Homo sapiens: one gene and its partner. The protein of the gene in region 1 interacts with the protein of each later gene in a pairwise test. Each region holds a gene or a part of one and is shown on either strand. Other genes may lie near its edges. The genes, in order: SRI and MORC3.

Region 1 (3,833 bases):
CAGGCTGGTCTCGAACTCCCGAGCTCAGGCAATCCACCCTCCTTGGCCTCCCAAAGTGCTGGGATTACAGGTGTGAGCCACTGCACCCAGCCTGGTTTTAAAAATAAAAATCAACTTACTTCTACCAATGAATGGAGAGTTCTAGTAAGCCATACCTACCCATTGTTGTCAGGGCCTTCTGCAATTCTTGTGGGTCTACTGTTCCACTCCTGTCAGTGTCAAAACTGATAAAGTGTTGTCTCCAGCCATTCAGTACAGCCCAGAGTTCTTTAAATTCATTGAAACCCATTGTGCCAGACATATCTCTCTGAACTGTAATCAAGGATTAGAGCTGTATTTTGCGATATTTTCTAAGGATTAAATGAAAGATCAAGGATAAGGGGAATTCAATATTCAATGGCTAAAAAAGTTATTGTAGATTATTCTTGGTATGATGTAAAATTAATGATTTAAAAATAGAAAGGGGCTATGGAGAAAAAGCTCAAGTGCCAATTTTTACTGTGGGGAAAAGATAACTTACATGACTTGATTATAAGGAAATAGCGTTGCCATTGTGAACCACTTATAAAAAGCGGTCTTGTTACTGGAACTAGGCTGTACTTTGTGGGTGCTTCAGGCTATGCTGTTTGCCCTTCTGTCCTAGCATCATCTCTGGTACTAATATTCCCTTGTTTAGTGCCCCCAGACAAATGAGGTGGGATGGAATGCACTGGATAGTCAGCACTACCTAAACTCAGTCCAACAAGTGGGATGTGAAAAATCCCATCACTTGCAGAGGAATCAATGTTAAAGAAAAAAAGCTGTCCTGACACTCTGGACTCTGTACTTGTTCTATAATACTCTGATGTTTCCTTAAATTCCTGAACAACATTCTGTTTACTAAATTTCTTTTCTTCCTTTATTCACACCAAATTCCACCCTATAATAGAAGCTAATTATTTCAGAAAGCTTTTTAGTGATCATTTATTACTTTGTGTTTACTAGATATTAATTCTAAGATGAATTCCTTTAGAATTTTAGAAAAAATTATTCTAGACAACAATCAAAGTAAAGGATACATCCAGCATTGAAACCATAAGCCGGCAAGTCTCCAGGTTAAAAGCTGTTAAATCAAGAAAAGTACATACATATTAACACAAATCCAAAAATTCACATTACACTGGATACATTCAAATTAATTAGAAATATGATTATTATACACTTTTATTTTTATATGCTATCAATTTACGTGTGACTAATCATATGGAACTTCAAAGTAGCCTTTTCTCCATAAAGAAGATTTTTTGCTAGGAACCCAAATTTGATTTAAATAACTTTGACAGAATTCCTTTTAAAAAGTATTACATAGTCCGGGTATGGTGGCTCACGCCTGTAATCCCAGCACTTTGGGGGGTGCCGAGACAGGCGGATCACCTGAGGTCAGGAGTTTGAGACCAGCCTGGCCAACATGGCAAAAACTCGTCTCTACTAAAAATATAAAAATTAGCCAGGCCTGGTGGCACACACCTGTAATCTCAGCTACTCAGAAGGTTGAGGCAGGAGAATTGCTTGCACCTGGGAGGAGGCGGTTACAGTGAGCTGAGATCATGCCACTGCACTCCAGCCTGGGTGACAGGGCAAGACTCCATCTCAAAAAAAAAAAAGTATTACATAGTACTGTTCATACTTTCTTGCTTTGAAACTGTAATATAGCGAGTTCAAGTCACCATAACGAACCATAATGTATTATATCCAACATGGTGGGTGGGAAGTCAGGGTTGCTTTGTTCCTACTCATAAATGACTATAAATTGCTGGTTTTGCTAATTTTGTGTCTGATTACTTGTTTTTCTATTTTCCCTTCAATGTCAGGTACTGAGCAGTAACCTCCTACCTCAAATAGTCTATGACCTCTTAGCTTATATATGAAACCAGATAAATATGGTTGTTAGAATTATGTGTTAAATAAGAGTACTCTAGATAAGACCCCATGACCAATTCAGTGGTGGCCACTATTCAGAAGCCTTTTTAATTTACCTACAGTTTAGGAGTATTATGAGGGCATTTTGGTACCTCACTTATGTAACCAAACCAGAGCACATGCAATGGGTGTGGTTACTGGTAACCTAAGCATTAGGAAATTAAAAACCACCTCTTACATTGAATTAATGGGAATCAATGACTGAAGAAATTGTATAGGTACAAAGAAGCTACAACGCTAAATGGCAGAAGTGACAAGGGTCACGTGGGAAAAGCTGGTATAAATTCTGCAAGCTTGTTAACACACAGAACATTTTTAACAGCTCTTTGTAGCTTCATATTTTTTCTCAAACCAAACTGAAATTAAAACACAACTGCGCTCATTACTGTAATGTCTCCCAACAGTGCAAACTATAGGTTTTACACATTTAATAGATTCCTGTGTTTGGCATATGCTTTACTGGAAATAAAAGACTAGTGACTATTTCTATTTTGGTCCTTCAATCTCCATTTGATCCACAGATAATATTCTCTGAGGTGAGAGGAGGAGGAAGCACTTTTTACAGTTTGGGAAAGAGCTGGTAGATTCTTCATTCTGACTTTTAAGTTGTGTGGAGGTATGAAGTCCCTCTAATCTGGAGCTGTAGTTCTCCACACTTGTGCTTATCTGAATCAAAGCTTTAAAAGATTCTGATACCTGGGCTGCACCATAGAACAATTAAATCAGGAACTCTGAGTGTGGGACCCAGGTATTTGTATTTTTAAAAAGCTTTTCAGATGATTCTAGTGAGCAGCCAAGGTTGAGACCACCATTCTACTCAAAGTGTGATTCCTGGACCAGCCATATTAGCATCACCCAGGAGCTTGAAGAACTGCAGAATCTCAGCCCTTACCCTACACCAATAAAATCAGAAGCTGAATTTTAGCAGATGTGCAGGTGATAGATATTCATGTTAAAGAAGCTGGTTCAACCTGAACCAGCATCACATGGAAACCTGTTAGAGGTGAAATTCTCAGGACTCACTCCAGACCTCTGAATGAGAAACTCTAGGGCATGACCCAGCAATCTGGTTTTTGTAAGCTTTCCAGGTGATGCCAATGCTGCTAAAGTTTAAGAACTGCTCTGGACGGCCTGACAACCACAGCGCAGAGCCAACTGTGTTGGGCTCACATGAAGGTATTGAAGGGGCTATGAGGCAGACAGCTTCTCTGTCTCTGTTAATGAATGGCACCCCCATCCACTCAGCAGTAACCCAAGCCAGAAACCTGGGAGCCTCCTCAATTCCCTCTCCACCAATAATCAATCACCTTCTAAACAGCTGTAGAGTCCATTTCCAGCCCCACTGTCTCCTTAGTTAGCATTTCTCTCACCTGTATGACTCCAGCAGCTCCCTAATGGGCATCCCTGACTCTTGTTTTACTTCCATGTCCCCCAATTTATTAGTCTTTACAGTCAGGGGTAGTATGTGCTCTCCTATGCAAAACCCAGTATCAGTGATCTACTGCTCTCAGGATAAAGTCCAAGCACCTTAACTGGTACATAAGGTAACACACTTATTTTGCAAGTCAGGCTCATCTCTTACTCTTGTTCAACCCCGTACACTATCTTCATGGAGAATTTCTCAATTTCTTGACTGAACCACGCTATTTCTGGGTCTTCTGCACATGCTGTTCTAACAACCTAGGACACAACTTCCCCATCCCACTCACTTCATGGTCGGCCTCATTTCTGCTCAGCTTAGGTATCAATTCTGCAAGGAAAACTTTCCTGACTCCTGTCTGGGTTATGTGCCCATTCTATGTGATTCCACAGCCTCTCTCTTATCCCAGTGCTTTTCCCAACACCCAGGCATTGATTGTGGCTACAGAGCCAGC
Region 2 (2,801 bases), on another chromosome or scaffold:
TATCTTCATAAAGAGCAAAAAGTATCTAAGTGCTTCCAAAGAATCAATTTAGCAAGCAAGTTTCTCTTACTAATCCCATGATTAATTTTCCCATCAAGCCAGACAGCTACAGGAAATATTTTTGCAAGAATACATAGAGAAGCTGGCCAAAAGGAAGGGAAAAATAGCAAATTCCAAAAAGAACCACTGCATGAGTTAGATATTCACAAAACTTACATATGATTTACATAGCTGCTATTATTTAGGCAAGGTTTCTCTAGAGTAAATGATTTATACAAAGAAAAGTCCTTTTTTTTTGAGACGGAGTTTCGCTCTTGTTGCCCAGGCTGGAGTGCAATGGTGTGATCTCGGCTCGCTGCAACCTCCACCTCCCAGGTTCAAGTGATTCTCCTGCCTCAGCCTCCTGAGTAGCTGGGATTACAGGCATGCATCACCACACCCGGCTAATTTTGTATTTTTAGCAGAGACGGCATTTCTCCATGTTAGTCAGGCTGGTCTTGAACTCCCGACCTCAGGTGATCCGCCCGCCTCGGCCTCCCAAAGTGCTGGGATTACAGGCGTGAGCCACTGCGCCAGGCTGAGAAAAAGCTTTTGAAAACAGAATATACATGCTCTGAGGAAAGAGGAGCTCAGCCTCAGTCTTAATGGAAACAGTCTTCAAAAAATAAACTGCAATTAAAGTAGTTAAAATGAGCTCAAGTTGAGGGTCTAATGAATACATTTTTAGTTTTAAAATAATTTGAGGTTAATATTAAGTCTTTAAAAGTAGCATTTGAACAGTTAGCCATCATATATTTTTATTTTATTATAAGATATTTTAAAATTTGGGAAATTACAATTGTGACAGAAAACCAGCTTCATACCAAAAATACACTTTCAATTACTTTATCAGGCAAATAAAAACAATCTTCATTTATTTGCTCTTTCCAGAATTACTATACAGTAAAAATTCAATACTGTATATGACCGACACGTATTAAGCATACATACAAAATGAACGGATTGAATGTTCAAAAACAAAGGTAAAAATAAATAGCAATGATAAAACTTTGGAAAAAATAATGCACATTTTAGTTGTGGAAAATATGGTTCTTATATATACATAGTTTATACTTAATAGAAAGCCATCTCTTTAAAATTGCACAAAACATGGGACCAATAAAGCATAGTATTTTATGGCATGTAATACTATAATCCTAAGGAAATTTGTTCCTTGACTCTAGGATATAAAACACTTAGGTTTGTAATATAATAAAAGGTATGTAGTATTGTTTGAGAAAGACTGTCTTCCTCAACTCACATTAACCTGTAGTAATCCTACAAAAGGCTGTACAGGAAATTTCACAAAAAGAAATATTAAAAAATTATCATGCCCACTTCATGCTGACTAAACAGCCAAAAATGGGCTTCAAAGTAAACTTGGTGGCCATTTAATATTTCAATACCTTTTTTCTGTTAAAGACTGTTTCTTCATTCTATAAAAACACTTTGTGTTTAACCGTGATTGGCAATCTCAGCACAACAAAATCCTGGCAAAATGGAGTTGGTTTTTGCTTACCTTATTTTCATGAATAAAATATTTCAGGACAGGAATTTATACAAAAGAAACATTAATGCTCAATTCACTTATAACCAGAGTTGTATCAGGAGTGTTACTACATTATTTAAAAATCCTATTTAAACTCCTTTATAAGAAAATCAAAGGTAACATTTCCATTTGTATTATGGCATAGCCCTCGACTTAGAGAAAAATACACTTTGGGGAACCAGAAAAAATTGCACAAAGCTTAGGGGCAACCTGAAAAGCTCTTGGTGAAAAACACTTGAGTACTCTAGGGCAATAAAAAAATATGTGCAGGCTTAATTACAAATATTTACATTCAAAACAGAGTCATGAGTTAGCTTCAGCTGCTCAATGCCAACAATTCACAGGTATTTCAAAACATAAGATAATGTGTCCACAATATTTGTGACCACATTTGAATGCATAGAATACAGTAAAGATTATGGTTTTCAGTCTGTTGCCTATCATATCTATAAAACAAAATTAATTATATTTTGAAAGCTGTACAACCAAAAGAATTGAGCAAATATTTTATCTTACATAACATATACTTTAAGTACTACTGATTTCACTCATTTGTTCAACAACTTGTCCTAAAATCTCATCAACTACATCAACATCGTAATTCACTTGCTGAAGATCAAGATCAGGCACAATCATAGCCAGCAGTTGTCCTACGTTAACTCGAAGAGATCGGAGTTTGAGGCTGCAAATACAAATATGTAACTTATTAGATGAGCATTACAAGTTAAGATTCATGTAGACCTTAAAAAGTAAAATATCAAAATCAAATCTCCGTAGAATAATATACAATTAAACAAAAGGAAAAGCAAAACCTCCCCTAGAGAACTCAATTTACTTTAATAATTCACTTTTATGAGTCAGGTGCACTTGCCCATGCCTGTATTCCCAGCATTTGTGAAGCCGAGGAGGGAGATCGCTGGAGCCCAGGAGTTCGAGACCAGCCTGGCCAACATGGTGAAACCCTGACTCTACTAAAAACACAAAATATTAGCCGGGCTTGGTGACGACACCTGTAGTCTCAGCTTCTCAAGAGGGTGAGGTGGGGGATCACCTGAGCCCAGGAGGTCAAGGCTGCAGTGAGCTGCGATGGCACCACTGCTCTCCAGGGTTCACGCAATTCTCCCACCTCAGCCTCCTGAGTAGCTGGAAGCACAGGCCCACACCACCATGCCCGGTTAATTTTTATTATTATTATTTGTAGCAATGGGGTTTC

What was found.
Region 2: the proteins of SRI (region 1) and MORC3 interact in a two-hybrid assay, tested with the Homo sapiens proteins (one large-scale study listed by BioGRID and IntAct).

What each region holds. Positions count from the first base shown.
Region 1 is NC_000007.14:88,209,824-88,213,656, forward strand, and holds part of SRI (sorcin), read right to left. Parts: intron 1,103-3,833; coding exon 1,059-1,102; intron 308-1,058; coding exon 160-307; intron 1-159. UniProt on the Homo sapiens protein: Calcium-binding protein that modulates excitation-contraction coupling in the heart. Contributes to calcium homeostasis in the heart sarcoplasmic reticulum. Modulates the activity of RYR2 calcium channels.
Region 2 is NC_000021.9:36,374,612-36,377,412, reverse strand, and holds the end of MORC3 (MORC family CW-type zinc finger protein 3), read right to left. Parts: intron 2,271-2,801; coding exon 2,117-2,270; 3' UTR 781-2,116; downstream 1-780.